Linked DNA regions of Homo sapiens. The protein of the gene in region 3 interacts with the protein of the main gene of each other region in a biochemical or structural test. Each region holds a gene or a part of one and is shown on either strand. Other genes may lie near its edges. The genes, in order: ITGB2, COIL, ANKS1B and ITGB3.

Region 1 (7,516 bases), on a different chromosome or scaffold from region 3:
GCAGTGGGCGCCTAGCAATTATGGAGCTGTGGGTGATACCCACCCCAAGCCGGACCTGGTGCCAGCAATTATCCCTCCCATTCTGCTTGGCACAAACTGGCACTGACACGGGGCATTGATTAGGTGGTTGCATTTGTCGATTCCGAGCCCATGTGTGTGGAGCCCAGGCCCTGAGCAAGCACAGAGGGCCCTGGTGCTGTCCTGAGCTGAGGCCCCTGCCCACCCCGGGCTGCGTGTTCTCTCCGGCCATTCAGGGTCTGAGAGTGCAGAAGAGTTAGCCCCAGGGGAACACCTTCCTGCCCAGCTGATTTGTAAACAGCCTCGCTGGGGACACATGTTGGTGTTGGGAGTGGTGGAGGTTTCTGTGTGTGATGGAAACTTGGGGTAGGTGTTGGGGAAAAGAGGTGCTGAGAGTCTCAGCAGAGGGCAGAGTCCAGGAGTCCTGGAGTGCAGCTCTCAGCCCCTGCGCCGTGCCTAGAGGAGAGGCTGGCAAGCCCCTGTCCCATGGATGGGTGAATGGGTGAGTGACAGTGGCAACAAGCCCATGCCAGCAGGGAGGTCCCACTGCCATGAAGCAGCGTCCTCATCAACGTCACAGTGGGAACAAGAAAGCCAGTAGCTTTGGAATCCGAAGGAGCAATTTCAGCATAATTCGTCGGCCACCATGAAATTCCATTTTTAAAATGTCCTTTATTCATTTATCACAAAAAGGGTGGAAAATACAAACAGGAATAATGAAAATTGAAAATACTCATAGTGCCACCACCCAGAGAAATGCAGAATATTTTGGAACTGTGTCTCTCTTTTTTTCCCCATAAATTCACTTTTACCACGAAGCCAAGCTGCCCTGAGCAGCTGTTTGCATGTTTTCGTTGCTGTGTGGGACTCCATAGCGCAGGCACCGAAACCGCCAAAGCATCTTACACGTTGACGGCTACACAGGGAATCAAGATATTTTGGCTGAAATCCCTGGTTCTTTCCTGGGGTGACTCATATGTTTCTTAGCCAGTTTTCTTCCTTCTTTTGTGAATTACCTGCTCAGGGTGCCACACCCTTGAAACATCCTTGAATGGAGTATTTACCTTTTTGTTATTAATTTCTAAGATCTCTTTAGAGATGAAGATTACCATTTACCTTTTGCACTAGAGAGATAATAGCTATTTCCTCTATGCAATTTGTTAGTACAACATGTGCCATTTTTAGAGTCTGTCTTCTTGCTATTTTCCCCCTTAGCTTTTTTTTTTTTTTTCTTTTGAGACAGTTTCACTCTTGTTGCCCAGGCTGGAGTGCAGAGGTGAGATCTCAGCTCACTGCACCCTCTGCCTCCCGGGCTCAAGTGATTCTCCTGCCTCAGCCTCGCGAGTAGCTGGGATTACAGGCGCCCGCCACCAAGCCCAGCTAATTTATGTATTTTTAGTAGAGATGGGGTTTCACTATGTTGCTCAGGCTGGTCTCAAACTCCTGACCTCAGGTGATCCGCCTGCCTCAGCCTCCCAAAGTGCTGGGATTACAGGCATGAGCCACCATGCCCGGCCTCCCCTTAGCTTTTATGCTGAGGTTTCCTTACTCTTAGATACCTATTCTTCTATTTCCTTTATTGTTTTATTCCCTAAAACTGAAGTCCTACACATTTGTGGCCATTCTTTTATGTCCACAGCAAGAGTGTCCGGGGCCTCGGCCTCACGTCGCCACCCAGGAACAGACAGTCTCCTTCATGTTAGATGGAGGAGTGGTGTCCCCTTGTCTAAAATGCTGTAAATATCATTTGATTTCCCTTTGACTTCAGGTATTTAGCAGAGTACTTTAGCATTCCTTATTAATATGTGTGTGTCGGGGGGGTGGGGTGTCTCATTTTATTTCATTTGGCCAGAAATTGTGGCCTTTAAAATTTGTGCTATCAGGCCGGGCGCAGTGGCTCACGCCTGTAATCCCAGCACTTTGGGAGGCCGAGGCAGGCGGATCACGAGGTCAGGAGTTCGAGACCAGCCTGGCCAATATGGTGAAACTCCATCTCTACTAAAAATACAAAAATTAGCTGGGCCTAGTGGTGTGCACCTATAGTCCCAGCTACTCAGGAGGCTGAGGCAGAAGAATTTCTTGAACATGGGAGGCGGAGGTTGCAGTGAGCCGAGATCTAGCCATTGCACTCCAGCCTGGATGACAGAGTGAGACTCCATCTCAAAAAAACAAACAAACAAACAAAACTGTGCTATCAAACTTCACAGATAGTCAAACCAACAGTAGGAACACGTCTCCCTGACCCTTGGGAAAATACGCTTTTGCAGGGTCGCAGGTTCAGAGGCGACATGGGCTGGGTTTTCCTGCATCCTCTCTGCTCCGACTTGTTCCTATTTGATCTGACCTGTTTTTGTCCCTGGATTTCCTGGAGCCTCTGTGATCCAAGGACAGTGTTCCAGTCCCCACCTGACGGCACTTCTCTCCAGTTCTTTATCACATTCCTACAAAGCAGAAATGAGTCCATCTTGATGCTCTGGCTTTTGGCTTAAAAGGTGGATGCCTAGTTTATAATCATCCCTTGAGCCTTCAGTTCCCAGCGCAGGGGTTGGCTCCCATGTCCTCTTCCTTCCAACCTTGTCCCCTGGCGGCATCGTCCATCACTTCCCGCGCACCTCCGAGTCACTTTGATGCGAGTGCCTCTCCTCTAGGACAGCGCAAGGTGGGTTTCAGCACAGGCAGGAGGAAGCTCTGATGCAAAGTTCCAATGGGTCTGCGGGGCCTCTGGTTCCTCAAGCAGTCTCGTCTTAGGGTTTTACGGGGTTGCAAAAAGGAAGCCTGAGACTGGGCACGGTGGCTCACGCCTGTAATCCCAGCACTTTGGGAGGCCGAGGTGGGCGGATCATGAGGTCAGGAGATCGAGACCATCCTGATCAACACGATGAAACCTCGTCTCTACTAAAAACACAAAAAAATTAGCTGGGCGTGGTCGTGGGAGCCTGTAGTCCCAGCTACTCAGGAAGCTGAGGCAGGAGAATGGCATGAACCTGGGAGGCGGAGCTTGCAGTGAGCTGAGATCGCGCCACTGCACTCCAGGCCGGTGACAGCGCAACTCCGTCTCAAAAAAATAAAAAGGAAGCCTGACCCCGCTGGATTCCTCTCCCAGCATAGGCTCTGCCCTCTCTCTGCTGTCTTGCTTAAAGTTTCCTTTCTTTTTCTTTTCTTTTTTTTTTGAGACAGGGCCTCGTTCTGTCAACTAGGCTGGAGTTCAGCAGTGCCATTAGGGTTCACTGCAGTCTCTCCCTCCTGGGCGCGAGTGATCCTCCTGCCTCAGCCTCCTGAGTAACTGGGACTAGAGATGCATGCCACCATGTCTGGCTAATTTATTTTCTATTTTTATTTTTTGTAGAGGTAGGAGTCTCACTGTGTTGCCCAGGCTGCTCTCAAACTCCTGGCCTCAAGTGATTCTCCTGCCTTGGCCTCTCAAAACACTGGGATTGCAGGCGTCAGCCACCAGGCTGGCCTCTTCCTTTCCTGTGTTTGCTCCTGTTCTCCTGTCCTCGACTTCTGTGAAAGGGTGTGTGTGATTTGGCCCGGATCTGCTGCAGGTCTCTTCTGACGCCGCTTTCGTGTCTCAGAGCCTGAATGTTCAGAGCTTTGCTCACCGTGAAGTGTGGTTCTTGTTAGCTGTGTCCATTTGGTGCCCGGGAGGGAAGGGCGCCCGGCCCCTGAGGGGTTCTCCGGGGAAGGATGACCTCGTCCCCCTGGTCCTGCCCCCTCAGCCCCCTGCTTCCCCTGTGCAGGGGACTTGGTGACAGGTACCACTTCCTGCAGCTGGGCTGGGGTTGCACCAGCACTTCCTTCTCGGGCAGGGTTGAGGTCAAGGGCGACTCTGATGCAAGGTTCTGAGAGGCCTGTGGGGCTGTGGATTCCTAAGCAGCCTCAGCTTTGGGTTTTGCACCTTAGGTCTTGGTAAGGGGACCCGCCCGCCCTTAGATGGGGGATGTCCAGAGCTGGAGGATGAGGAGGGCACCCGCCCCTGGTGTGGGGCAGCAGGGAGGGCCTTGGAGAATGAGGAGGGCACCTGCCCCCAGTGTGGGGCAGCAGGGAGGGCCTCAGGGTGATCAGGCTCCAGGCCAGAGCTCTGGGGCCAGCTCAGGGGCTGGGGTGGGGGGTGTCTGTGCTCTTCCTCCCCTCCTGCCCTGCAGCTCTGCCGGCTTAGCCTCAGGGCACCAGAGGTGACAGTGGCCAGGCACCTGTTTGCCCGAATGCTGCCCTACATCTGTGCCTTACCCATTCCCATCCCCCAGGGAGCTGGCACAGGCCCTTCGACCACCTCCAGGCACATGGAGGAAACTGAGGCAGATAGGCCTGATGGGGTCTTGGTCTCTCAGGCCTCAGGTGAGGCCCTGGACCTCCGTGGGCCATCCTGGCTGCTGGGCAGAGGGGCTGCCCTGCCCTGTTCTCCCACAGAAGGGAGGCTGGCTGCCAGGCTCAGTGCACTGCCTTACCTCCTGGAGCGGACCTTCATCCCCAGCTGTTTGTCTGGGCTCAGCCACTGGCATTGGGGGGTGGGGCAGGGCCTGGCTTCTCTTGTGCCCCCAGCTCCAAGCCCCCCAGGGCTGCTCATGGAGGAGCAACAGTGGGGAGAAGGTGGCTCCCCACCAGCCCCCTTCCTGTGGTCAAGGTTGGGGTGCCGTGGTCTCTGAGCCAATCCTGCTGGAATCAAGGTGCACCCCCTCTCCCTGTGGGCAGGTGGGAGTGCCCGGGGTAACTGGGCACCAGGTCCATATCTTGCTGCTGCTGGGGCCCTCAGTTTCCCCATTTGAGGGTATGAAGTGTTTGCATGCCACTGGTCACGACTGTGTTAGGGGCGGAGACCTCATGTCTGCGGCCCCAGGGAGAGCGTGGAGCTGGGGTGTGAGTCCTTACCAGCCTGGCTGGGGCTGCCAGGGGAGGTCTGCACCCCCTCCCCACTTGGCGCAGCTGCGACCTGGGGGAGTCCTGAAGCCGGCTGGACCCTGCACCCTGGGGGAGTCCTGAAGCCGGCTGGACCCTGCACCCTGGGGGAGTCCTGAAGCCGGCTGGACCCTGCACCCTGGGGGAGTCCTGAAGCCGGCTGGACCCTGCACCCTGGGGGAGTCCTGAAGCCGGCTGGACCCTGCACCCTGGGGGAGTCCTGAAGCCGGCTGGACCCTGCACCCTGGGGGAGTCCTGAAGCCGGCTGGACCCTGCACCCTGGGGGAGTCCTGAAGCCGGCTGGACCCTGCACCCTGGGGGAGTCCTGAAGCCGGCTGGACCCTGCACCCTGGGGGAGTCCTGAAGCCGGCTGGACCCTGCACCCTGGGGGAGTCCTGAAGCTGGCTGGACCCTGCACCCTGGGGTAGCTCCAGCACGCACAGGGCCTCCGATCAGCTGAGGGGCTGGTGGGCACTCGTGGCACCGAGGTCAGTCCAGGCGCAGGACTTTGAGGGGGCCCAGATGGAGAGCTGGAACTGGCCTCGGCCTGAACCACAACCCCCAACGATCAGAGATATGGGGGCTTTCAGACACAGGGTGGGCCCAATGTGAACCAAAACCACCTCCTCCAGGAAGTTACAGCAGGGTGCAGGTTCTGTTTTTGACCCCAGGACGGGAAGGATCAAGGGTTCCCTTTTGACATTTTTGTATTCTGATTATAATTTTGCTGGGAACCAGGGAATGAGGTCACTGCCAAAACAACAGGACCTTGGGGCTTGTTGGGGCGTCTAAGCTGTGGGATCCTCAGATGGGCCCCTGGTGGGTGTTCCGTTGGCCTCAGAGCCCCCAGCACAGGTGCAGGGCTTTCGGGGGATGGAGGGGAGCCAGGGCCTGTGGCTGAGGGCACCCGAGCCTCCCGGGCCACAGCACAGCACCCAGCGCTGTCTTCAAAGCCGGCAGGCCCTAGTTTGGGGCTCTGCTGGCTTGGGTCTGCCCACTGAACCTTGGGTGGCCCTGCCAGCACCACCCGAGGGAAGGGTGTGGGGCAGGAACGCCCCAGCAGCCTGGGAGGCCGTGACAGGAACTGGCATTTGCTGGAGGAGGTGTGTTGATCTTTGCTTCTGACAACAGCCCCAGGGTAACGGAAATGTCTTCCTGCCCACCATGACAGGAAGGCTCCTGGGTACCCCTTCTCAGTACCTCTCCACCTTCTTGGTGCCAGATAAAAGGGTCCCAGCCAGCTATAATGTTCTCAGGTCCTGGGAGGTCAGACCCAGGGGCCCACCCCACCTAGGAAGCCCTAAGACCCCCCAAGGAGCCGACCTAGGCCTGGTTTGGGCACCTCCCGGATGGAGGGAAGGGAACCCAGGGGTGGAACGGCCCTGCTGCCCGCTAGGAGGTGCTGCCGGCCTCCAGCACCAGGCTGAGGCCTGCTTCCGTCATTTTGCCTCTGGGGCCGAGGGCCTGTGAGTGACCACTGAGCCGCCCCTGGCTGTGGATGCGTGGGTTAAGGACGGGGTGGGTGTGTATCTGGAAACAAAAGGGCAGGACCCCGGCAACTGGTGGCTTGGGCAAGTCAGGTGACTTTTTTTCCCACCTGGCAGGGACTGCAGGGCTCCTGGGCAGGCCTAGCACACAGCTTGGCACCCGCGGGCATCAAGCCAGCTTTCTCTTCCTGGCACACAGCCTGGCACCCGCGGGCATCCAGCCAGCTTTCTCTTCCTGGCTATGTTTCTGCCACAGAGAGACAGGGCCAAGCCCAGCTCTCCTCCAAGCACAGGCTCTGCTCACGGAGGACCTGGGGCACACTGGGGCAGAGTGCACACACCGGGTGTGTGGGGTTCTGGTGTTTGTGTGCGTGTACATTTGCACGTGTGTATGGTGTGTGCGTGTGGTGTGTGTGTCTGTGTGGTGTGTATGTGTGTGTACGTGTGCATGTGTATATTTGTGTGTGGTGTGTAGTGTCTTGCGGGGAGTATGGTGTGGGTAAGGGGTGTATACATCTCTGTGTGTACATATGTGTGGTGTGATGCATGTATATGTGTGGTGTGTGCATGCACGTGGTGTGTACATGCAGTCAGGCACACATCTGTATGCACGTACACGTGCATGTGTGGTGTGTGTACACGTCTGCATGTGTGTGTGTGCCTGTGTTGTGTGCCTCTGCAGGGGCCCGCTGCAGCTGTCCTGGGTGCCTGGCTGAGCAGGTGTGCTGCCCGCACTGCTGAGCCCGGGATCCCTCCCTCCCTGGCTGTTGGCAGCTGGGCCCAGTGCAGCTGTGCTGGCCTGACCCTAACCCACCCCCTGCAGCAGGGACAGGGCCCCAGCTCCTTGTCCCAGGCCAGCTGGAGGGGAGCTTCATGGGTGGTCAGCCCCAGGGGTTGGGCCTGAGACCGTCACCAAGACCCCTTCCCTCCACAGGACATGCTGGGCCTGCGCCCCCCACTGCTCGCCCTGGTGGGGCTGCTCTCCCTCGGGTGCGGTGAGTTCTGTGTTCCACGGAGGGGACTCCACGCGTGACATTCCAATCAGGGAGAACAGGGCCTGCCCTCACTTTCCCATAGACAGAAGTTCCCGGGAGGCTGGGGAAGGACCTTGCCAC
Region 2 (7,516 bases), on a different chromosome or scaffold from region 3:
ATACCTACTTTGTGTTGGTGTTTAGATTAGAGAAAAACGTATTAAAAATGTTTAGGATGCAGTAGCTATTCAATAAATAAAACTAGCCATTTGAAAGTTGACTGTGAGTAATGCTACATAGGCCATTTTGCCAGAAAGAGTCTTTTGTCTTTAAGTGATGTGACATTTTTTCATTGACTGATGGTAGTTACATTTTGTAGAGTCATCTCAGTATATAACTATGTCCTGGAGATGTGTTTATAAATTGCTCACTCTAGCTTTCTCTCTTGTTCTTTTGACAGAGTTAAATTAGAAGAGAGAGGAGTTGCTGAGAATTCTGTAGTCATCAGTAATGGTGACATTAATTTATCTCTTAGAAAAGCAAAGAAGCGGGCATTTCAGTTAGAGGAGGGTGAAGAAACTGAACCAGATTGCAAATATTCAAAGAAGCATTGGAAGAGTCGAGAGAACAATAACAATAATGAGAAGGTCTTGGATCTGGAACCAAAAGCTGTCACAGATCAGACTGTCAGCAAAAAAAACAAGAGAAAAAATAAAGCAACCTGTGGCACAGTGGGTGATGATAACGAAGAGGCCAAAAGAAAATCACCAAAGAAAAAGGAGAAATGTGAATATAAAAAAAAGGCTAAGAATCCCAAGTCTCCGAAAGTACAGGCAGTGAAAGACTGGGCCAATCAGAGATGTAGTTCTCCAAAAGGTTCTGCTAGAAACAGCCTTGTTAAAGCCAAAAGGAAAGGTAGTGTAAGCGTTTGCTCAAAAGAGAGTCCCAGTTCCTCCTCGGAGTCTGAATCTTGTGATGAATCTATCAGTGATGGTCCCAGCAAAGTCACTTTGGAGGCCAGAAATTCCTCAGAGAAATTACCAACTGAGTTATCAAAGGAAGAACCCTCTACCAAAAATACAACTGCAGACAAACTGGCTATAAAACTTGGCTTTAGCCTTACCCCCAGCAAGGGCAAGACCTCTGGAACAACATCTTCCAGTTCAGACTCTAGTGCAGAGTCAGACGACCAATGCTTGATGTCATCGAGCACCCCGGAGTGTGCTGCGGGTTTCTTAAAGACAGTAGGCCTTTTTGCAGGAAGAGGTCGTCCAGGCCCAGGGCTGTCATCACAGACTGCAGGTGCTGCTGGATGGAGGCGTTCTGGCTCAAATGGTGGTGGACAGGCTCCTGGTGCTTCTCCCAGTGTGTCTCTCCCTGCTAGTTTAGGAAGAGGATGGGGTAGAGAAGAGAACCTTTTTTCTTGGAAGGGAGCTAAGGGACGGGGCATGCGGGGGAGAGGTCGAGGACGAGGGCATCCTGTTTCCTGTGTTGTAAATAGAAGCACTGACAACCAGAGGCAACAGCAATTAAATGACGTGGTAAAAAATTCATCTACTATTATCCAGGTAAGTATTATTTTTTGTAAGTTATCTCCTCCCTTTCCCCTTAGAATGTGTGTGGAGTTCATGTCATGGATTCACATTTTCTCACCAGTGATGATGTCACATGACTAACACTGTTTTTCAGAATCCAGTAGAGACACCCAAGAAGGACTATAGTCTGTTACCACTGTTAGCAGCTGCCCCTCAAGTTGGAGAAAAGATTGCATTTAAGGTATATTTCAAAAGAACAGTCACAGCAAAAAAGGTTCATTCCCCTTCCAAATAAACTTACTTAGAAAATCAGGTTAAATGTGTTTGTAAAAGCCCTTCCCACTGGAACCCCAGTGTTGTTACGGGTTCCTGGTAGGGCTCCCAGACTGGTCGGGGTGGACACGCCAACATGGCATGATGGAGGAGCTGTGGGAATGGGAGAGGATAAGAGGGCTTATGTATTTGTGGGTTTTTTCTTCTTTTTTAGCTTTTGGAGCTAACATCCAGTTACTCTCCTGATGTCTCTGACTACAAGGTAAGGATGTTTATTTAAAAGTAAGTTGTCAGTGTATTATTAAAACTAAAGTCATATTTAATACTACTTGTATGGATAATACAGATTTGTTTTTTTACTAAATAAAAATGCCAGAAAGTAGAAAATGAAAACATTAATCGAAATGTCAACTCTTTAATAGTATCACTGGGAAGTCTCCCTGTGTTATTTGCCTTATACTTGGGAAGAATAGAGTAGGAGAATGATGAGCTTAATTTTTACTTTTTTAAAAAAAATATATTAATTTTTTGTTTTTAAATAGCGACAGGATCTTGCTATGTTGCCCAGGTTGGTCTCAAACTCCTTGGCTCAAGCAATCCCCCCATCTTGGCTTCCCAAAGTGTTGGGATTACAGGTGTGAGCCACTATGCCCAGCCAGTTTAATTTTTTTAGTTACTTTTTTCTAATTAGTTTAGACCAACTTATTTGGGTATTCATTCCTTCATGATTCTAAACTTTGAAAGAAAATAATAAATAGTTCTCAGCAAGAAGATTTGATTATTTTCATCATGGGAATCTATTTTACATATTTGTGAATTACTTCTGGTTGTTATGATCTAGTATGATTTCTTCTGCATTATCAGGTAACCACAGGTAATTCATAAATATTATCCGTGGAATTTACTTACTTAATATCTGTATGAGTCTTTATATTGGCATGTGAGGTTTTTCATAGTTCAGTAAAAGCTTGACTCAGTCAGAGGGATCACAGAATTACATGTTTCTTTTTCACCCACCAACATTTTGTTGAAAATCTTGTTAAAGTGCATTCTTTCTTTTTTTTGATGTACTATATGGAATGTAAGACCATTTTTTAAGGTAATAATTGGTAGTGTTAATATAGTAACATAGATAAAATACAAGGGAATTTGATTTAATCTGGATTGATGCCTTGGAAGACTTAAAATCTTTATAGAAACCTTTCCTCAAGGCTGGGCTTGGTGGCTCCCACCTGTAATCCCAGCACTTTGGGAGGCCAAGGTGGGTGGATCACGAGATCAGGAGATTGAGACCATCCTGGCTAACACAGTGAAACCCCGTCTCTAGTAAAAATACAAAAAAAAAAATTAGCGGGGCATGGTGGCGGGTGCCTGTAGTCCCAGCTACTCAGGAGGCTGAGGCAGGAGAATGGCGTGAACCCGGGAGGCAGAGCTTGCAGTTAGCTGAGATCACACCACTGCACTCCAGCCTGGGTAACAGAGCGAGACTCCATCTCAAAAAAAAAAAAAAAAAAAATCTTTCCTCAAAAGCAGGCTGGAAGAATCAGTTAATGAAGGGATCTGGTGGGTTAGTTCTAGGTCGTTGGTGTTTTGTTTTTTATCTTCTTAGGCACTTACTATCTCCTATGGATGAGGTGATCATGTAATTTATCACCTGAATCAGGATACTTGTGAGTCAAAGGGATGCTATTAATAGTTATGCTGGAAAGATGTACAGACCTGTCTTGAACAAACCAGGGTGTTTTGTCACCCTACCATAGAAAACATTTAATTGTGTGATATATGAGGAAATGGAAATGAATATTGTATTGATACATCCCACAACCTCTATAAATTGTAATTCTAGATGATACTGATTTTTAAAAATTGCTTATTAATGGCCAGGCACAGTGGCTCATGCCTGTAATCCCAGCACTTTGGGAGGCCAAGGTAGGTGAATCACTTGAGGTCAGGAGTTCGAGACCAGCCTGGCCAACATGGCAAAACCCCATCTCTACTAAAAATATAAAAATGAGCCTGGCATGGTGGCGTGCACCTGTAGCCCCAGCTACTCAGGAGACTGAGGCACAAGAATCACTTGAACGCAGTAGGTGGGGGTTGCAGTGAGCTGAGATCATGCCACTGCACTCCAGCCTGGGTGACAAAACGAGACTCTTAAAAAAAATTGCATATTAAATTGGTATTAGTTGTCATAGTTATTAATGTTGGAAGGTGTTTTGCCTACTTTAGTTGGCAAAATTTTTTGAAGATTTTTGAAATTGCTTTCAAAAACATTTTAAGAATGAAAATTGGTCCTACTTTTTTGCTTTGACCTCAAACGCAGTTATCCAGCTTGATCATCTGCTTTATTCATTAACCTTGTCTCCAAAAATTAAATTGGTTCAATTCTGTACTAAAAAATGTAGTCTCCCAAGCCCCTGATTCCCTGTTGAGTCTGGTTTTAAAAAAAACTGTTGACTGTGCTCAGAAATTCCAGGTAGAGGCAGGAGGAACTGGTTGCTTGGCCTCTCAGTATATACCCCCGGAGGCTACCATGTGTCTCCCCATCGCCCACGTGCATGGGCAGTGCATCCTCTTGATGCATTAGAAAATCAGCTCCCACAGCTGGAGACCTGGGAGAAGGAGAATTGGGATCTTAACAGTGATAAAGTGCCTTCTGGTTTCTCCTGGGGGGTTGTGATCACTGTTTTAGAAGGGTTCTAAAAGCATCAGGAACCGAGGCTGCACCATTAGGATATATCTAGTCTCTCCTGATGAATGCTGTGATGGTCAGTGCTCACTTGAATATATCAGCCTGGTGTGATTTTTTTCTCCTTTTCCCTTATTCAGTCACTTTTGGTTCCCTGGTGTAATCTTTACTTTCATCGAGTTATTTAAGATAGTGTCTGCCATTTATGATTTAAATGTTTTATTTTGCCTCTAAAGATATTTCTGTATATTCACATAAAGTGTTTATCAGTCCACCTGTTTTTATTTTCTCTATATGTGGATTTATTTCTAAATTTTTCAACTGAGATAAAATTCACATAACATAAAATTCAACATTTTAACCATTTTAAAGTCTACAATTCAGTGGTTTTTAGTATATTCACAGTGTTTTACATGTTGATTTTGACTTGGACTTTTATTTTTGAAAGGAAGGAAGAATATTAAGCCACAATCCAGAGACCCAGCAAGTAGATATAGAAATTCTTTCATCCTTACCTGGTGAGTCTTTTAGAAAATAATTTGAAAATGTAGGCTCTATCTACAGTGGTTTATAAATAGCTTTTATACACAGGAGATGTTCTCTTCCTTGGCCTCCATATAACTGGCGCTCCCCACTTCTTTCAGCACACTTTAGCCCTGGGGGCTCATAAGAGATGTTGGATATATTCCAAAGCTGTTGGGCTAGTTCTTATTACTGTAATTATATAATTTCATAAAAGATTATATGAACTGATGAAAATCGATTATAAAAAGAATTATTCCTAGGAAGCCTAAGTTGAATGCTGACTCAGGAAATGCTATGAAATTATGGATGAGTGGGTCAGCTATAAAAGATTGGGAGGAATTTTGTAAAAACTGAGGAAGATTCTGCACTTAGATTGCCTTGCAAATTTTTGCAATCTTGCCTTATTTAAGAAAAACCCAGGCTGGGCACGGTGGCTCACACCTGTAATCCCTGCACTTTGGGAGGCCAAGGTTGGTGGATCACTTGAGGTCAGGAGTTTGAGACCATCCTGGCCAACATGGTGAAACCCTGTCTCTACTAAAAATACAAAAATTAGCCGGGCGTCATGGCACACGCCTGTAATCCCACCTACTGGAAAGGTTGAGGCAGGAGAATCGCTTGAACCCGGGAGGTGGAGGTTGCAGTGAGCCGAGATAGTGCAACTGCCTTCCAGACTGAGTGACAGAGCAAGACTTAGTCTCAAAAAATATTTTAAAAACCCCCAAACTGTAAATTGTGGAAATTGCAGACAATACAATGGTATGGTTTATTAAAAAAAGAGCTCTATTCAGTGAACTCATAAGACCTACTCAGCTCTATTTCAAAAGATTGTCAAATGAATATACTTTTGTATATTAAGTCAAAACAAAATGTCTGAAGTGTGTGTATACATACACTTTCACATATCATTTTAAATGGTTGCTGGATTTATCTCTGATGAACCCCACCTGGTACTGGAACTGAATGCGTGGAATAAGAGGGCTTTTATAATATGTAGCTTAACTTGGGGTGTACTGTAGGGGTCCCTGGCCAGAGGGCAGGGGAGATTCCTTTTCCTTTAGAAGATCCTAAAGCAATTAATTGTTTTCCTTTTTTTTTTGACAGAGTCTCACTCTATCGCCCAGGCTGGAGTGTGGTGGCACAATCTTGGCTCACTGCAGCCTCCGCCTCCCAGGTTCAAGTGATTCTCATGCCTCAGCTTGCAGAGTAGTTGGGACTACAGGCACACACCACCATGTCCAGCTAATTTTTGTATTTTTAGTAGAGATGGATTTTGACATGTTGGCCAGGTTGGTCTTGAATTCTTGGCCTCAAGCAATCCACCTGCCTTGGCCTCCCAAAGTGCTGAGACTACAGGTGTGAGCCACTGTGCCCAGCCTGTTTTCTGTTTGTTTGTTTGTTTGTTTGTTTGTTTATTTTTGAGACGGAGTGTTGCTGTCGCCCAGGCTGGAGTGCAGTGGCGCTATCTTGGCTCACTGCAAGCTCTGCCTCCCAGGTTCGCACCATCCTCCTGCCTCAGCCTCCCGAGTAGCTGGAACTACAGGCGCTGGCCGCCATGCCCGGCTAATTTTTTGTATTTTTAGTAGAGACGGGGTTTTACCATGTTAGCCAGGATGGTCTCGATCTCCTGACCTCGTGATCCACCCACCTTGGCCTCCCAAAGTGTTGAGGTTACAGGCATGAACCACCGCACCTGGCCTTCTGTTTATTTTTAGATAAGGGATTGAATAAAAGATTCAGCTAACAGAAATCAGTCGAAAGAGTTTTTGAACAAAGTTCGTTTATGATATTAAGTAAATGTTTATATATAACTTACACTGGGTTCCTACCTTTCTTTTTTTTTTGAGATGGAGTCTCACTCTGTTGTCCAGGCTGGAGTGCAGTGGGCGATCTCGGCTCAGTGCAAGCTCCGCCTCCCGGGTTCACGCCATTCTCCTGCCTCAGCCTCCCGAGCAGCTGGGACTACAGGCACCCGCCACCACACCTGGCTAATTTTTTGTATTTTTAGTAGAGATGGGGTTTCACTGTGTTAGCCAGGACGGTCTCGATCTCCTGACCTCGTGATCCTCCCACCTCAGCCTCCCAAAGTGCTGGGATTACAGGCATGAGCCACCGTGCCTGGCCAGGTTTCCAACCTTTCTTCTGATGAGATTTCATTTATAGAAATCCCCTTTCTTAGGAACGGTGGACAGAAAAGTTTGTCCACTGTCAAATTCTGTGCATACAGCCTGATCAGTGCTTGTCAGGTGATTAATAGTGATGACATCCACTTAGAACTTTTCTTCTTTAGGGCATCAAGAAATGGCTTCGGGGGCGAAGGTGGGAGGATCACTTGAGCCCAGGAGTTCAAGACCAGCCTGGGCAGCATAGTGAGACTCTGTCGTAAAAAAAAAAAACAAAACATAGCTGAGTGTGGTGGTACATGCTTGTAGTCCTCGCTACTTGAGAGGCTGAGGTGGGAGGATCACTTGAGCCCAGGAGGTCGAGGCTGCAGTGAGTCATGATTGCGTCACTGCACTCCAGGCTGAGTGAGCAAGACCCTGTCTCAAAAGCAAAAAAGAAAGAAAGAAATGGATTTATCTGTTCTCTAATAGCAATGTCACTTGTCCTTGATGTGGTGGTTCTGATATACATATATTTCAGTTACCCTGGTTTAGTTAAGTAATACTAGTC
Region 3 (7,958 bases):
AGGGAGATCAGTTAAGATGCCAAAAATGGATAATGTGTTTGTGTGTCTTCTTAGCGGCCCCTCTGAGAGACTGTGTAATAGGTTTGTCAGGATGCTAGGTATTTTCCTCAGTGGGGAAATAAAAAGAAATGGTGAAAAATCATTTATCTGAATTTTGGGTAGATTCTCTTGGTGGGAAAATAGTTTGAAGTGGATACAAGACTATATTTTTTCAGCTGGCCAGGTGCAGGGTCACCTGTGGGGCACATAGGCTTTCAAAGGTAGTAGCACATAGGCAGGGTGGCTCGGAGAGAGTTAATGGTAGAATCAGCAGGATGGTGATGGAATGTTGTGTAGTGTGACGGTCCTGGGGGAACTCTTATTCCTCATCACTGACTTTCCCTAGAGGAGAGGAGGCTCTGCTCCTCTTTCTAAGACAGTGAACACTTCTGGTTTCTTTCCCTACTTCTATCCATTGGGACCACTTTACTAGTGGGTGGGGCTACCTTGCTTTCAAAACAAGATACAGGCTCAGCTCTGGTTTTCTTTCTCTCTTGCCTGTCTCATGGATCACTAAGAAGGGTAGTGGGCTTTATTCTGCTTGCTGTCCCAAGATGGTGAGATTCTGGGGTAAGAATCTGTTTCGGCATGCTTTCCAAAGGCAGCCCTGGAAACTGATCATTCTCTCCATTCCTCTGACTTTATCTGTGAGATAGGCATTAGTCTGGCTGGGTATATACATTTAGATTTGCAGATCTACCTTTCCCCACAGGTAGGTCCCAAGGTGCACATTCACAGAGAGGTAGGCCCTCGTCTCATTTTTAGTGTAGTTTTAGCAGGGATTTTGTGGGATATTAGACCCTTATATGACTCGTAATAAAGATGATATGCTAATGAGATACTCTTTGATTCCTTGTGTCTGCGTTCAGCTAATTATAACTTGGAGAAGATGGGTGATTGGTGTTCTGTGGCCTTCAACATTCATGGCCATGAATCTTCAGAAAAATTGTAAATATAATACACTTGGTGTTTGGGTTCCCTCAGGAAGATGATGAGGGACAGAGTTTGTGCCATGTGGCCATGTGGAGAAGAACTTTAATGTCATGCAGGAAGCAAGAACCTGCTCTTCTATCCAGATGTCTAGTATTTTCACATTCTGTAACCTGAAGCTGTTGACTTCATAGTTCTAGTGATGCAGAGTAACTTCAGAACTTGAGATGGAGAAAGTAAATCTACTTCATAAATCACAGGGTTATCTTCTTATTTCAGCTCTGTTGATAACTTCATGTTATAAGATATTATCTTTTTCTCTTCTTCACTGAAAACAGACCTTGGTATATAATTCTAAGATTGGTCTGGATTCATGGTCCTTCAATTTCTTTAATGTTTCCAAAGAGTTTTGTGTGTGTGTGCAAACACTTCTATACAAAAACTGGTATTTGCTTCACTTCCCCCTTCTAATCTCAACCCCTAGTCCCTTCTTTTATTAATCAACTCCTAGAAGAGTGACTTGCAGTATGTGTATATTAGAGCAATAATTCTTGCCAAAAAGTATCCAGAAGTAGATTTATATCAGAATTTGAAATATAAGGGATTCAGAGATTCTGCAGGACTTATAATATCTTCTTACAGTGTTACTTCAGAATTAAATAAAATGAGAGAAAGTAAAGGGTATAGTATCATTCCTGGCACAAAATACACATGTACTATTATTATTATTTTATTTTATTTTATTTATTTATTTATTTTTGAGACAGAGTCTTGCTCTGTCGCCCAGGCTGAAGTGCAGTGGCGCGATCTCCACTCACTGCAAGCTCCACCTCCTGGGCTTACGCCATTCTCCTGGCTCAGCCTCCCGAGTAGCTGGGACTACAGGTGCCCGCCACCATGCCCGGCTAATTTTTAGTATTTTTAGTAGAAATGGGGTTTCTCCATGTTAGCCAGGATGGTCTCGATCTCCTGACCTCATGATCCACCCACCTTGGCCTCCCAAAAGTGCTGGGATTACTGGCATGAGCCACCATGCCCGGCCTACATTTGCTATTATTAATACTGTCCATTGAGAATAGCAAAGATAGATTTAAAAACCCGAAAAAATATATATTTATTTTATAATTAAAAACAAAATAGAGGGTGGCCGAGGCAGGTGGATCACTTGAGGTCAGGAGTTTGAGACCAGCCTGACCAACATAGTGAAATCCTGTCTCTACTAAAAATACAAAAATTAGCCGGGCGTGGTGGTGGGCGCCTCTAATCTCAGCTACTGGGGAGGCTGAGGCTTGAGAATCACTTGAACCTGGGAGCAGAGGTTGCAGTGAGCTGAGATCGTGCCACTGCACTCCAGTCTTGGCAACAGAGTCAGACTCTGTCTCAGAAAATCAAATCAAATAAAAACAGAATAGAAATCTCAAATCTATCTCCATACTTAATTTCTAGCTTCAGTGATGCAAATGACTTAATGGACTAAGACCACGTTTCATCACAGGCATAGAATATTATGGCTGGCAAGGCCAGTGGAAGGCATCCGACATAACTTCTTCATTTTACTTATGCACACACTGAGATAGAGATTGTCTAATTGGTTCCCAAGATTCTATCACTCTTTTCACTATTCACAGATGCAAAACATCTTGATGAAATCTGGATGTTTAAAAGATCTGGATATTTATTTTGGCCTCTGTAGATTTTTAAAAGAATGTTTTCACTTTTATTTTGCATGTTAGTCCCCATGTAGCCAAAGCCTTTATCCTCTTCAACAAAAAACTATGAGGTGCAGTCACTGCAATGTCTACAGAAAAACAAAGTTATGAGGTCACTAAAACCAAAGAGTTTGAAGCTGAAAAATTGGCTTTGATTATCATATGTCAGTAGAATGCCCGAACTGTGGAACTGATTCTTAGAGTAAATCATTACTAATGGTTTTCCCATTGGGGGTGGGGGCTGCATGATTTCGATAAGATGACTCGGGGCCTGCGGTCACCAACTCATCCATGATTAAATGTTGCTTGTGAAAACTGTGGGTGATTTTCAGTTCTGACCAATTGAATACTTACAGTATATTCTGGGAAAGGTGTGTTTTGCTTAGGTGGCAACATTAGGAAAAAGGAAGAAGGATTTCCCTATGCCATTTTCAAAATGAATGTGATGGCTCCTTATCTCGTTTCTTTCATTGGTCTGCTAGTCCCATTATGTCAGGGATTATATTATTATAACATAGATTATCTTATTAAAACAGATTCTAACACAGAAAACAAAATCAAAATGAATTAAAAAACTACACTAGCCAAAATCTACATACTTCAGGAAACCTCCAATAAATAGCCATAATTTACCTAATATTTTGAATCATTGAAATGAAATCTCAGAACACAATGAATTCCATAAAAATGTTTTAATATACTCTTGTTATTTATCTCTAAATGCCTTTTAAGTTTCCCCCAGTTATTTATTGAAAATCTTTGCCTACAGCAGACAGTGCCGGATTTGAGCCTTGGCTCAGTTACTTTCTATCCCTATTATCTTGCGGGTAATCAGTTTCTTCATCTCCAAAATAGAGATGAAAATGGTCCTATCTCATGCGATTGTTGCAAGGCTTAATGAGAACATGGAAAGCACTTAGCATAGTGTCTGGTATGTAGCAACTACTCATCAAATGCATGCAATAATTATTGTCTGTCCATTTCGCTTTTCCATGGGGGGCAGGAACGTATATTGGGAAGCACATGGTGTCTGGAGTGAGTCTGTTCTGGGGTCTAGTTCTGAGTCAGCCACTTACTCCATGTGGCATCTTGAGAAATTTAATTAACCATTTGAGCCCTATTTCCTCATTTCTAAAATGGATATAATAATATCCAGTTCACTGGGTTGTTGTAAGCACAGTGCCTATTAAGTCCTCTTCTTACCAATCAATTATCAACAAGTGAACATTTATGAAGTCTATTCCAAGGACAATGCAAAGCACAAGGTGTAACAGGAAGTTTTAATAGAAAATAAACGCGCGTTCTCCACCACGGCCAAGGAGAGCATCTAACAAGTCATGCCAACCATGCACAATGAATTGCTGATGATATATGCAAATTAAAGTGGATCTCTAATCCATGCCCATTTATATTTTTCGAGTGTAGATGTGGATAAATTTTCAATGAGAGCCTTTTTCCTGGTATTCTTACAAGTCAGCAGATCTCCAAAGCCCAACTAAAATATGGGCTGATTAAAGACTCCAGAAAAACTGAAACAGTCGCAAACTGCTCGGTGGCCAGTGCCACAGAAACTAGGACGAAACGAGCCTCTTCTTTCTAACCAAGGGCAGATCTCAGGCTCTCTTGGGGAGGTAAAGCGGAAGGGTGAAATGCCGGTCAAGTTGCCTAGACTCTGATGGAAGCGGTGGCCAAAGGGCCCCTCCCCAGTGTCACCAGCCTCCCCATTCCTGTCACGGAGGATTTTCCTCAGGCGTCGTGACAGACCCGAGGCGTGTTGCCGGGGCCCGCCGGGCCGAGGAGGAGCCGACGCGGCCCGGGGAACTCCAGTCCTCACACGGTTAACGCTCTTCCAAGGAGAGTGGAGGAGGGAGGGTCCCCGCCCACGAGAACGAAGAGAATCTCAGGGCCGAAGCCCCGCCTCAGCCGGCCCGGCCCCTCCCCGCCAGCCCGCCACCCAACTCGGGCCGCACCAGGGGCCGCACCTGCCCGCGCGCACACGCCCCCCGCGCGCCAGGCCTCGCCGCCGCCGCCGCCCTCGGCACGCGCCCGCTGCGGCTGCCCCCCACCGCCCTGCCTCGGCGCGGGCCACAGCGCACGAGCCGCCGCCGCCGCCGCCGCGCTCCTCCCCGCCGCGGACGCCGCCCCCGCGTAACCGCCGAGGAAGCCGAGGCGAGCCCGGGTCGGGCGCGAGGGCGCGCGGGCCGCTGCTGCCACCGCGGGTGTTCCCTGCGCTCCCGCTCCAGCTAGGACTCTCTCTGCCGCCTCCTCCTCCTCCTCCGACCTCAGTCCTCACCACCCTCCTCCCGCTCCTCAAAAGCACCCCCGAGTCCCCACCCCCTCACGCCGCACCCGCGGGAACGAGGCCTTGGGAATTCAGGGGAGTGGCTGTGGGGGCGCGTCGCGGCTCCCAGCTCGGCCAGCCCCTCTTTCAAGACATGGTCTGATCCCCATTGTAAAAGCTGCGCCCCGAAGAGGAGGAGAGAGTCGTGCTCCCTGCCTGGGGCTGCAGGGAGCTCTCCGTGCTGAAGCTCTTGCATTATTTTAGGGTGGGGCGAAGAGGGCCCTGGATTTTGGGGAGTGGGGGTGGGTGGGGAGGAGGACCCGAGGGGGGCAAGGACTCTGTGGGGGAGTCGGTGAGAGACTATGGGGAAGGACCAGGAGCTGCTGGAAGCTGCTCGCACTGGAAATGTGGCTCTGGTGGAGAAACTCCTGTCTGGCAGGAAAGGAGGGATCCTGGGCGGTGGATCCGGACCCCTGCCCCTGTCTAATCTGCTAAGGTAAGGACGGGCACCAGCTCCGGGGTTGGCACACCTCATTATGCATTGTGATGGATATACGTCCTCCTCCTCACGGTTATTGCACCTGGTGGCTGCCAGCGATTCATTCTTAAATTAGGTAGGAAAACAGACTGCGTGTATGGAGAGGAGGTATGAGCCTCCCAGTCAGATTGATGCCTTAGATTCTTTGAGTAATTTTAAAATAGCCTTCCATCAATGCGTCAGTAAGCTACTTTTCCTCTGAGCCCTGGTGCAGAACTTGTACATGTACTAGTGTTGCTTGAAGAAAATCGACGTTCCGCCCGCTTTCCATCAACATTTATTACATATTTGCAGCTTTGAACGCAGCCTTTTTTGTCTAGTTAAATGAAATTGGCAGAGAATCTCTTGCGTGCATGCAATTACCCTGCAAAAGCCACAGCCTTCGGTGGCTCCTACCTTCTCTTGCAGAAGGCGTTTGCTGTGCCGTGGGTTATGATCCCACAAAATGAAGTGAGTGAACCTTCTTTCTGGTGAGATGTCTTCAGCACAGGGTGTGTATAAAACTTGATGGGGCAGGTTAGGCAGCCCCAGCAATACTTTCAGTTACCTGGACATAGCTGAGTGAAACTTGGTTGTTATAGCTCAGGATGAAGGATGCCAGGTTGGTATTGGGATACTGTATATGGAGTACGGTAGAGGCCTTTTAACGTGAAGATGTCGTAGGTGAGACTGGTATTGCTTGGAGAATCTTTCTAAGATGACATTTAAAAAAAATGTCAAGGTCTTCATTCAGCAGTACCTTGGAAATAGCGGGGTTGATTTCCATACTTGAGAAACTATTAAAAGTTGTATTGATGGACAAATGAAATCAACTGGGAGGGAGGAAGCCTGGAGAGTATTCACTAGATACAATTCAAGGGAAGCTCTTTAGTTTCTAAAATCGTGGCTATCCAATTTATCCTGGGTATTTTTGGAGTCATCAATTGTCATTCATATCTTCGCCTTAAAACATCTCTTGGATAACCCAACTATAGTTGTAAAAATTTTAGAAAGCCCAAGTGATTTCCCTGGTTTTTTAAAAACTGTTCCATGCTACCCTTGACAAGTGCTTAATAGAAACTTTTGGGTGATGACATTGCGTTCTTTACACAAGTTCTCATAGGTTGTGGTGGTCAGACAGTGCAATTAATTATAGGGCTAGCTAAAAGGGAAAATGGAAAGTTTCTATTACAGTGAAATAAATTGAGTTGAAAAATAGTCGATGGGATTTTAAAAAGCCCCATATGTTATTCTATATACTCGTTGACAGTGACATTTTATTGGAATGATAGTTCATGTCAGAAGAATGAATATTTATGGGACATTTTTTCAATAGGTCATAGAGATGACTTGTGTGTACTCCCTTGTTAAATAATCTTCTCTTTCAAACACAGGTAGACAATGTGTGCATATTTCAGATTGCAGCTCTAATAATTGCCTGTAGTCACATGTAGTTTATGTGAAAGCAATTTATCTCTTTACAGTTTTAAGTTACACGTAAAATAACAACGTTTGCTGTGGATCCATCAGTTATAAAAATGATTATGTCTAAAAACTGGTATGCTGAAAGAATTTTCTCAAAATAAACAATTTCTTCGGGAAAACATGAGGAATTATTTGAGAACAGTGAGAATTTCACTTAATTTTATTGTGATAAATCGTATTTTAAAAACACTCCTTGTGACAAAACTCAAAAGCAAACATCCTTTAAATACTCCTTTCCCAGCTGTGATTTTTTTTTTTTTTTTTAAAGAATAGATGTCAAGTTTTAGGGATAAAACACCAAGTATTTAATGTTAGTGGACACTAAAGTATCAAAATAGTGACCCACAGTGTATATCTTGAGTGAGAGGTTTTCTCTTTTGCTGGTGTAGTAGTAGTAGTAGTAGCTCTACAACAAAGATTGCACATAGAAAACAAAAGTAAACAACATGTGTTTATTAGAGTACTTCGAACCAAGTTGTAAAAATCACAAACAAAACCAATAACCTTTAAACTTGCTTTTATCCATCTTATACTGAATAGTGTCTGAAGAAAATGAGAGTTGAAATTGTATTCTTTGGGCAATCATTTGCATAAAATGACATTCCTAAGAAGGCACATTTTATTTAGTTGTCACTTTATTTCAAAAATGATTGTCATCAGAAATTTATTGGCAGGATAATGGAAAATGTGTCCCCCGTCAAACATAATGACACTTTGAAATTTCTTAATGTTTTAGAAGGAACTGTAGAATATGTTTGGCACTTTTTCCCCGCTTGCTTTATTACCTGGGTTGTGTAATAATGGTGTCAGACCCTATGCTAAGTGCTTACACGTGTCATCTCATTCAATTCTTGTGTCAGCCTTAGGAGGTCCATTGTCATTTCACAGATGAAGGAATAAAAAGATAAGATTAAGGACTTGCCCATGGTCACTTAATTAATAATGGCAAAGATTTGAAAATCTGTGATTCAGATTTGTTTTACAACATTTTAAGTCT
Region 4 (7,516 bases), on a different chromosome or scaffold from region 3:
TTGTTTTTGTGGTGTGTGTGGTGAGCATTGGGTATATGTTTGGCGAAGAAGGTGGGAGACAGTGTGGAAAGTGGGTGTGACTTCCTCTCCAGGCTCATTAGCACCCTCATATATAAACACCTGGTTTCATAACACTTGAGGTTACTGGAATAAGATCACCTATTAGATACCTGACATTTGTGGGAAGCAGAGCTCTGCAGAGTATACTCAGCCTGACCCCCAGAGGGGTGACATGCCTCTGTTTTAGTTGTTGACTGGGGTTGAACAGGAAGGCAGCTTTCAATAGGGTTATGATTTTAGATGACTAAGTATTTTGGGAAAGAACCCAAAATATTGTCTTGGCTGGCAGGTCCTGGTCTCTAAGAATGCAAAAAATGTCATTAGGTTCACAGCCCTCAGGAATGTAAATATCTGAACCAGGATAACAGACACAAATACTTACAGTGGCTAAGGAAGCAAATAAGTTAGTGAAAACAGCTGGGTGTAAGAAGATCCGTTACAACGGTAGCTGATATTTACTGAGCACTTACTCTGTGCCAGGCATTGTTCTGAGTTTTTAAGATATATTTAATTTAATCATTCCTCATAACAAGTTTCTTTTAAAGTCAGTGCTATTACTATCTTCATTTTAAAGATGGAGAAACAGGAAACAGACATTCAGAAAGGTTAAGTAATTTTCCAAAGATCATGTATAAAAGTTAAGTGATAAGTCAGGATTCAAACCCAGGGAGTCTGGCTGTAACATCCACAGGAGCGCAGACACACCAACAAGTCACACTGCCTTCCTCTAGGAGAGAGAAGGGAGAGTGGTGGGGATTCTGGTAAACTAGAAAACATGAGTTCCAACTAAAAGGAGCAGCTCCTCCTCAGCTCTAGCTAACTGCTGCTCTGCAGGAATATAAGAATCTCTCTCTTTCTGTATTTCTCTCTTTCTTTCTTTTGAGATAGTCTCTCCCTCTGTCATCCAGGCTGGAGAGCAGTGGCACGATCATGGCTCACTATGACCTTGACCTCCCAGGCTCAAACGATCCTCCCACCTCAGCATCCTGAGTAGCTGGGACTACAGGCATATGCCACAATGCCTGGCTAATTAAAAAAGACAATTTTGTAGAGGCAGAGCCTCACTATGTTGCCCAGGCTGGTCTTGAACTTCTGGACTCAAGCTGTCCTCCTGCCTCGGCCTCCCAAGTGCTGGCATTATAGGCATGAGCCACTGGGCCTGGCCTGGATTTTCTTTTTAAAGAGACTAATATGAAATTTTAGGGGGAGAATCTCCTGATTATTCAATATTGCCAATAAAGTCAATTTTTTATTTCTTATTCATTTATTTATTTATTTATTTATTTTGAGATGGAGTTTTGCTCTGTTACCCAGGCTGGAGTGTAATGGTGTGATCTCGGTTCACTGCAACCTCTACCTCCCAGGTTCAAGTGATTCTGTGCTTCAGCCTCCCAAGTAGCTGGGATTACAGGTGCTCGCCACCATGCTAGGCTAATTTTTGTAGTTTTAGTAGAGATGGGGTTTCACCATGTTGGCCAGGCTGGTCTCAAACTCCTGACCTCAGGTGCTCTGCCCACCTTGGCCTCCCAAAGTGCTGGGATTACAGGTGTGAGCCACCACACTCGGCTTTTTATTTTTAATTTTTTAAAAAACTTTTATTTTTGCTTTAGGGGTACATGTGTGGGTTTGTTCCGTAGATAAACTGTGAGTCATGGGGGTCTGGTGTACCTATTATTTCATCACCCAGGTAATAAGCATAGTGACTCATAGGTAGTTTTTCGATCCCCACCTCCTCCCCGTCTCCACCCTCAAGTAGGTCCCAGTGTCTGGTGTTCTCTTCTTTGTGTTTAATTTTTAAAATAAACACTTGGGTGAACCCCCACACAAAGGTGTGGCTGGGTTCTGTCTAGGGGTTACCAGGTCTAGACTTCTGATTTGAGCCACTCAGTGCAGATTATTGCTGTCCTAATGATTGTCTCCTTAAAAAAATTAATTTTTGAAAACTGTCCTATTTCCTTCAAGGACCTTAGTTACTTTGTCAAGAACACCTTTTTCATAGCCAGTTCAAGTGACTCCTGCTTCATTCACAACCGCCCTGCTCTGTGCTTCTTCCTCACAGAGTGTCCCAAGGGCCCTGACATCCTGGTGGTCCTGCTCTCAGTGATGGGGGCCATTCTGCTCATTGGCCTTGCCGCCCTGCTCATCTGGAAACTCCTCATCACCATCCACGACCGAAAAGAATTCGCTAAATTTGAGGAAGAACGCGCCAGAGCAAAATGGGACACAGTAAGAGACGGGGCTGGGCGTTTTCTAAAGTCATTGGTCTGAGACTCTTAAGTGGAAGCAGCAGATGCTTTGGGTGGTCATGTTCAGCCAGTACCATCGTCTTTCCATTATCCTCTGTTCTGGAAACTGGGAGAGATGGTCTCACTATCCCCTTGTCCTTCAGCTTCCTTCAGCCTCTTAGAAATAGTGGCAGGATGTCATTCCATCTCATTCTCTTCTTTCTCCTCAAATAAATGGTTACTTCCAGGCTGGGCCTGGTGGCGCGTGCCTGTAATCCCAGCACTTTGAGAGGCCAAGGTGGGCAGATCACTTGAGCTCAAGAGTTCGAGACCAGCCTGGGCAACATGGTGAAACCCCGTCTCTATTAATAATATAAAAATTAGCCGGGTGTGGTGGTGCATGCCTGTAATCCCAGCTATTCGGGAGGCTGAAGCAGGAGGATTGCTTGAACCCAGTAGGTAGAGGTTGTAGTGAGCTGAGATTGCACCCTGCTCTGGGTGACAGAGCAGGACTCGGTCTCAAAAATAATAATAATAATAATAATAATAATAAAATAAAATAAAAGGTTACTTCCAAATCAGACTCTACTCTTTTATCCTGATTTATTCCAATTAAATAAGCATTTACTGAGAACTTTCTATATACTTAATCTTACTCTATTCTCTTTTGGCTCTTCTTTCACATTTCAACTTTTTTCCTCGACCCTCCAAATGGCTATTTGACTCCCCAAATGTCCAGAGTTAGGCTGCAAGTTTGTTCCCATTTGATGTTGACCCCAGAGCTTTATACTCAAGGGTCCCAAGAAACTGAGATGTTTCTGTTAGAACAGTGTGGAACATCCTGTACCTATGAGGCCCACAGGAATGTGTTTCTTTCTCTTTTTTTTTGGAGACAGAGTCTTGCTCTGTCACCCAGGCTTGAGTGTAGCGATCTTGGCTCACTGCAACCTTGGCCTCTCAGGTTCAAGTGATTCTCCTGCCTCAGCCTCCCAAGTAACTGGATTACAGGCGCCAGCCACTGTGCCCAGCTATTTTTTGTATTTTTAGTAGCGACGGGGTTTCACCATGTTGGCCAGGCTGGTCTCGAACTCCTGACCTCGTGATCACCCGCCTCGGCCTCCCAAAGTGCTAGGATTCCAGGCGTGAGCCACTGCGCCTGGCTAAGAATGTGTTTCTTGAAGCTACCATTATAGGATTTGTTACTTTCTGTTGGAAAATAGTTTGGGAAACCTAGTGAGGGTCTTACTTTTTCCTGATAACATGACAGTTTGTGGATAGTGCTTTCTCTTTCTCTCCCCTCCTCTCCCATTCCCTCCCCTCCCCTCCCCTCTCCTCCCCTCCCCTTCCTTTTACGCTTCCTCCCCTCCCCTTCCCTTCCTCCCCTCCTCTCCTTTTCTTTCCCTTCCCTTCCCTCCTTCCTTCTTTTTTTGAGACAGGGTCTCGCTCTGTCACCCATGCTGGAGTGCAGTGGTGCCATCATGGCTCAATGCAGCCTCCATCTCCTGGGCTCAAGTGATCCTCCCACCTCACCCTCCCAAGTAGCCAGGACTACAGGCACACATCACCGAGCCAGCTAATTTTTGTATTTTTTTCCCTTGTAGAGACAGGGTCTCACTCTGTTACCCAGGCTGGTCTAGAACTCCTGGGCTCAAGTGATCTTCCTACCTTGGCCCCTAAAAGTGCTGGGATTATAGGCATAAACCACCATGCCTGGCCATGGTTAGTGCTTGGCCAGATTAGATGAAAACAAATTAATAATTATTTGAGCAAAAGCTTTCCTCTGTGTTCTGAATTGCACCTGATACATTTCTGTCCCTTGTCCACATCTCCTATCACTGTCACAGGGAATGGAAAATAGGAGAAGGGCAAAAGAGACGGGGACACAGGGGTGAAATAGGAGAGGTTCTATCCCCGAATGCTGTGGAATCACTGAAGAGTGATAGGCTGAATATAGCTCCTTAGAAATAGTGGCAGGGAACAGGTGTGGTGGCTCATGCCTGTAATTCCAGCACTTTGGGAGGCTGAGGCAGGTGGATCGCTTGAGCTCAGGAGTTTGAGACCAGCCTGGGCAACATGAAGAAACCCCATCTCTACAAAAAAATGCAAAAATTAGCCAGACATGGTGGTGTGTGCCTGTAGTCCCAGCTACTTGGGAGGCTGAGGTGGGAGGATGTCTTGAGTCAGGGGAGGTGGAGGTTTCAGTAAGCCGAGATTGTGCCACTGCACTCCAGCCTGGGCAACAAAATGAGACCCTGTCTGAAAAAAAAAAAAAAAAAAAGAAACGGTGGCAGGATGGCATTCTACCTCATCTCCTCCTGTTATTTCCTATCAATTCCCATGCCAAGAACTAAAGTGTGAGCAAAATGAACATTATTCTGTTTCATTGATGATGTATTCCAGAGAACGGTGCCTTGGGAAAACTTCTGAGATGAATTTTAAACATTCAGGGTAGGGAAGGACTTAAGGAAGTCACTGTAAGATGCTATTCTGTTTCCTCCACAGGCCAACAACCCACTGTATAAAGAGGCCACGTCTACCTTCACCAATATCACGTACCGGGGCACTTAATGATAAGCAGTCATCCTCAGATCATTATCAGCCTGTGCCACGATTGCAGGAGTCCCTGCCATCATGTTTACAGAGGACAGTATTTGTGGGGAGGGATTTGGGGCTCAGAGTGGGGTAGGTTGGGAGAATGTCAGTATGTGGAAGTGTGGGTCTGTGTGTGTGTATGTGGGGGTCTGTGTGTTTATGTGTGTGTGTTGTGTGTGGGAGTGTGTAATTTAAAATTGTGATGTGTCCTGATAAGCTGAGCTCCTTAGCCTTTGTCCCAGAATGCCTCCTGCAGGGATTCTTCCTGCTTAGCTTGAGGGTGACTATGGAGCTGAGCAGGTGTTCTTCATTACCTCAGTGAGAAGCCAGCTTTCCTCATCAGGCCATTGTCCCTGAAGAGAAGGGCAGGGCTGAGGCCTCTCATTCCAGAGGAAGGGACACCAAGCCTTGGCTCTACCCTGAGTTCATAAATTTATGGTTCTCAGGCCTGACTCTCAGCAGCTATGGTAGGAACTGCTGGGCTTGGCAGCCCGGGTCATCTGTACCTCTGCCTCCTTTCCCCTCCCTCAGGCCGAAGGAGGAGTCAGGGAGAGCTGAACTATTAGAGCTGCCTGTGCCTTTTGCCATCCCCTCAACCCAGCTATGGTTCTCTCGCAAGGGAAGTCCTTGCAAGCTAATTCTTTGACCTGTTGGGAGTGAGGATGTCTGGGCCACTCAGGGGTCATTCATGGCCTGGGGGATGTACCAGCATCTCCCAGTTCATAATCACAACCCTTCAGATTTGCCTTATTGGCAGCTCTACTCTGGAGGTTTGTTTAGAAGAAGTGTGTCACCCTTAGGCCAGCACCATCTCTTTACCTCCTAATTCCACACCCTCACTGCTGTAGACATTTGCTATGAGCTGGGGATGTCTCTCATGACCAAATGCTTTTCCTCAAAGGGAGAGAGTGCTATTGTAGAGCCAGAGGTCTGGCCCTATGCTTCCGGCCTCCTGTCCCTCATCCATAGCACCTCCACATACCTGGCCCTGTGCCTTGGTGTGCTGTATCCATCCATGGGGCTGATTGTATTTACCTTCTACCTCTTGGCTGCCTTGTGAAGGAATTATTCCCATGAGTTGGCTGGGAATAAGTGCCAGGATGGAATGATGGGTCAGTTGTATCAGCACGTGTGGCCTGTTCTTCTATGGGTTGGACAACCTCATTTTAACTCAGTCTTTAATCTGAGAGGCCACAGTGCAATTTTATTTTATTTTTCTCATGATGAGGTTTTCTTAACTTAAAAGAACATGTATATAAACATGCTTGCATTATATTTGTAAATTTATGTGATGGCAAAGAAGGAGAGCATAGGAAACCACACAGACTTGGGCAGGGTACAGACACTCCCACTTGGCATCATTCACAGCAAGTCACTGGCCAGTGGCTGGATCTGTGAGGGGCTCTCTCATGATAGAAGGCTATGGGGATAGATGTGTGGACACATTGGACCTTTCCTGAGGAAGAGGGACTGTTCTTTTGTCCCAGAAAAGCAGTGGCTCCATTGGTGTTGACATACATCCAACATTAAAAGCCACCCCCAAATGCCCAAGAAAAAAAGAAAGACTTATCAACATTTGTTCCATGAGCAGAAAACTGGAGCTCTGGCCTCAGTGTTACAGCTAAATAATCTTTAATTAAGGCAAGTCACTTTCTTCTTCTTAAAGCTGTTTTCTAGTTTGAGAAATGATGGGATTTTAGCAGCCAGTCTTGAAGGTCTCTTTCAGTATCAACATTCTAAGATGCTGGGACTTACTGTGTCATCAAATGTGCGGTTAAGATTCTCTGGGATATTGATACTGTTTGTGTTTTTAGTTGGGAGATCTGAGAGACCTGGCTTTGGCAAGAGCAGATGTCATTCCATATCACCTTTCTCAATGAAAGTCTCATTCTATCCTCTCTCCAAACCCGTTTTCCAACATTTGTTAATAGTTACGTCTCTCCTGATGTAGCACTTAAGCTTCATTTAGTTATTATTTCTTTCTTCACTTTGCACACATTTGCATCCACATATTAGGGAAGAGGAATCCATAAGTAGCTGAAATATCTATTCTGTATTATTGTGTTAACATTGAGAATAAGCCTTGGAATTAGATATGGGGCAATGACTGAGCCCTGTCTCACCCATGGATTACTCCTTACTGTAGGGAATGGCAGTATGGTAGAGGGATAAATAGGGGGCGGGGAGGGATAGTCATGGATCCAAGAAGTCCTTAGAAATAGTGGCAGGGAACAGGTGTGGAAGCTCATGCCTGTAATTATAACCTTCAGCTACTAAGACAGGTGTGGTGGCTCACGCCTGTGATTATAATCTTCAGTTACTAAGACAGAGTCCATGAGAGTGTTAATGGGACATTTTCTTTAGATAAGATGTTTTATATGAAGAAACTGTATCAAAGGGGGAAGAAAATGTATTTAACAGGTGAATCAAATCAGGAATCTTGTCTGAGCTACTGGAATGAAGTTCACAGGTCTTGAAGACCAATATTATTTGTCAATATGTGGGGATAACCTGTAGCTGCATTCATGAGGTAGCAAATAGCAGTTTTGGCCTGTGGGGTGAACAGCTAAACAGTGTTCTGGCATCAGATAACACGGCACAAAGGGATTGTGTCTAGCTCTTTTGGAGAAAATTTATGT

What was found.
Region 1: the proteins of ANKS1B (region 3) and ITGB2 form a complex in vitro, tested with the Homo sapiens proteins (one study listed by IntAct).
Region 2: the proteins of ANKS1B (region 3) and COIL form a complex in vitro, tested with the Homo sapiens proteins (one study listed by IntAct).
Region 4: the proteins of ANKS1B (region 3) and ITGB3 form a complex in vitro, tested with the Homo sapiens proteins (one study listed by IntAct).

The regions. Positions count from the first base shown.
Region 1 is NC_000021.9:44,910,605-44,918,120, reverse strand, and holds part of ITGB2 (integrin beta-2 isoform 1 precursor), read left to right. Parts: intron 1-7,335; 5' UTR 7,336-7,338; coding exon 7,339-7,396; exon of another isoform or gene 7,397-7,516.
Region 2 is NC_000017.11:56,943,762-56,951,277, reverse strand, and holds part of COIL (coilin), read left to right. Parts: intron 1-281; coding exon 282-1,389; intron 1,390-1,510; coding exon 1,511-1,597; intron 1,598-1,843; coding exon 1,844-1,891; intron 1,892-4,766; coding exon 4,767-4,836; intron 4,837-7,516. UniProt on the Homo sapiens protein: Component of nuclear coiled bodies, also known as Cajal bodies or CBs, which are involved in the modification and assembly of nucleoplasmic snRNPs.
Region 3 is NC_000012.12:99,981,601-99,989,558, reverse strand, and holds the start of ANKS1B (ankyrin repeat and sterile alpha motif domain-containing protein 1B), read left to right. Parts: upstream 1-4,622; 5' UTR 4,623-5,321; coding exon 5,322-5,455; intron 5,456-7,958. UniProt on the Homo sapiens protein: Isoform 2 may participate in the regulation of nucleoplasmic coilin protein interactions in neuronal and transformed cells. Isoform 3 can regulate global protein synthesis by altering nucleolar numbers.
Region 4 is NC_000017.11:47,305,352-47,312,867, forward strand, and holds part of ITGB3 (integrin beta-3 precursor), read left to right. Parts: intron 1-2,119; coding exon 2,120-2,286; intron 2,287-4,787; coding exon 4,788-4,853; 3' UTR 4,854-7,516. UniProt on the Homo sapiens protein: Integrin alpha-V/beta-3 (ITGAV:ITGB3) is a receptor for cytotactin, fibronectin, laminin, matrix metalloproteinase-2, osteopontin, osteomodulin, prothrombin, thrombospondin, vitronectin and von Willebrand factor.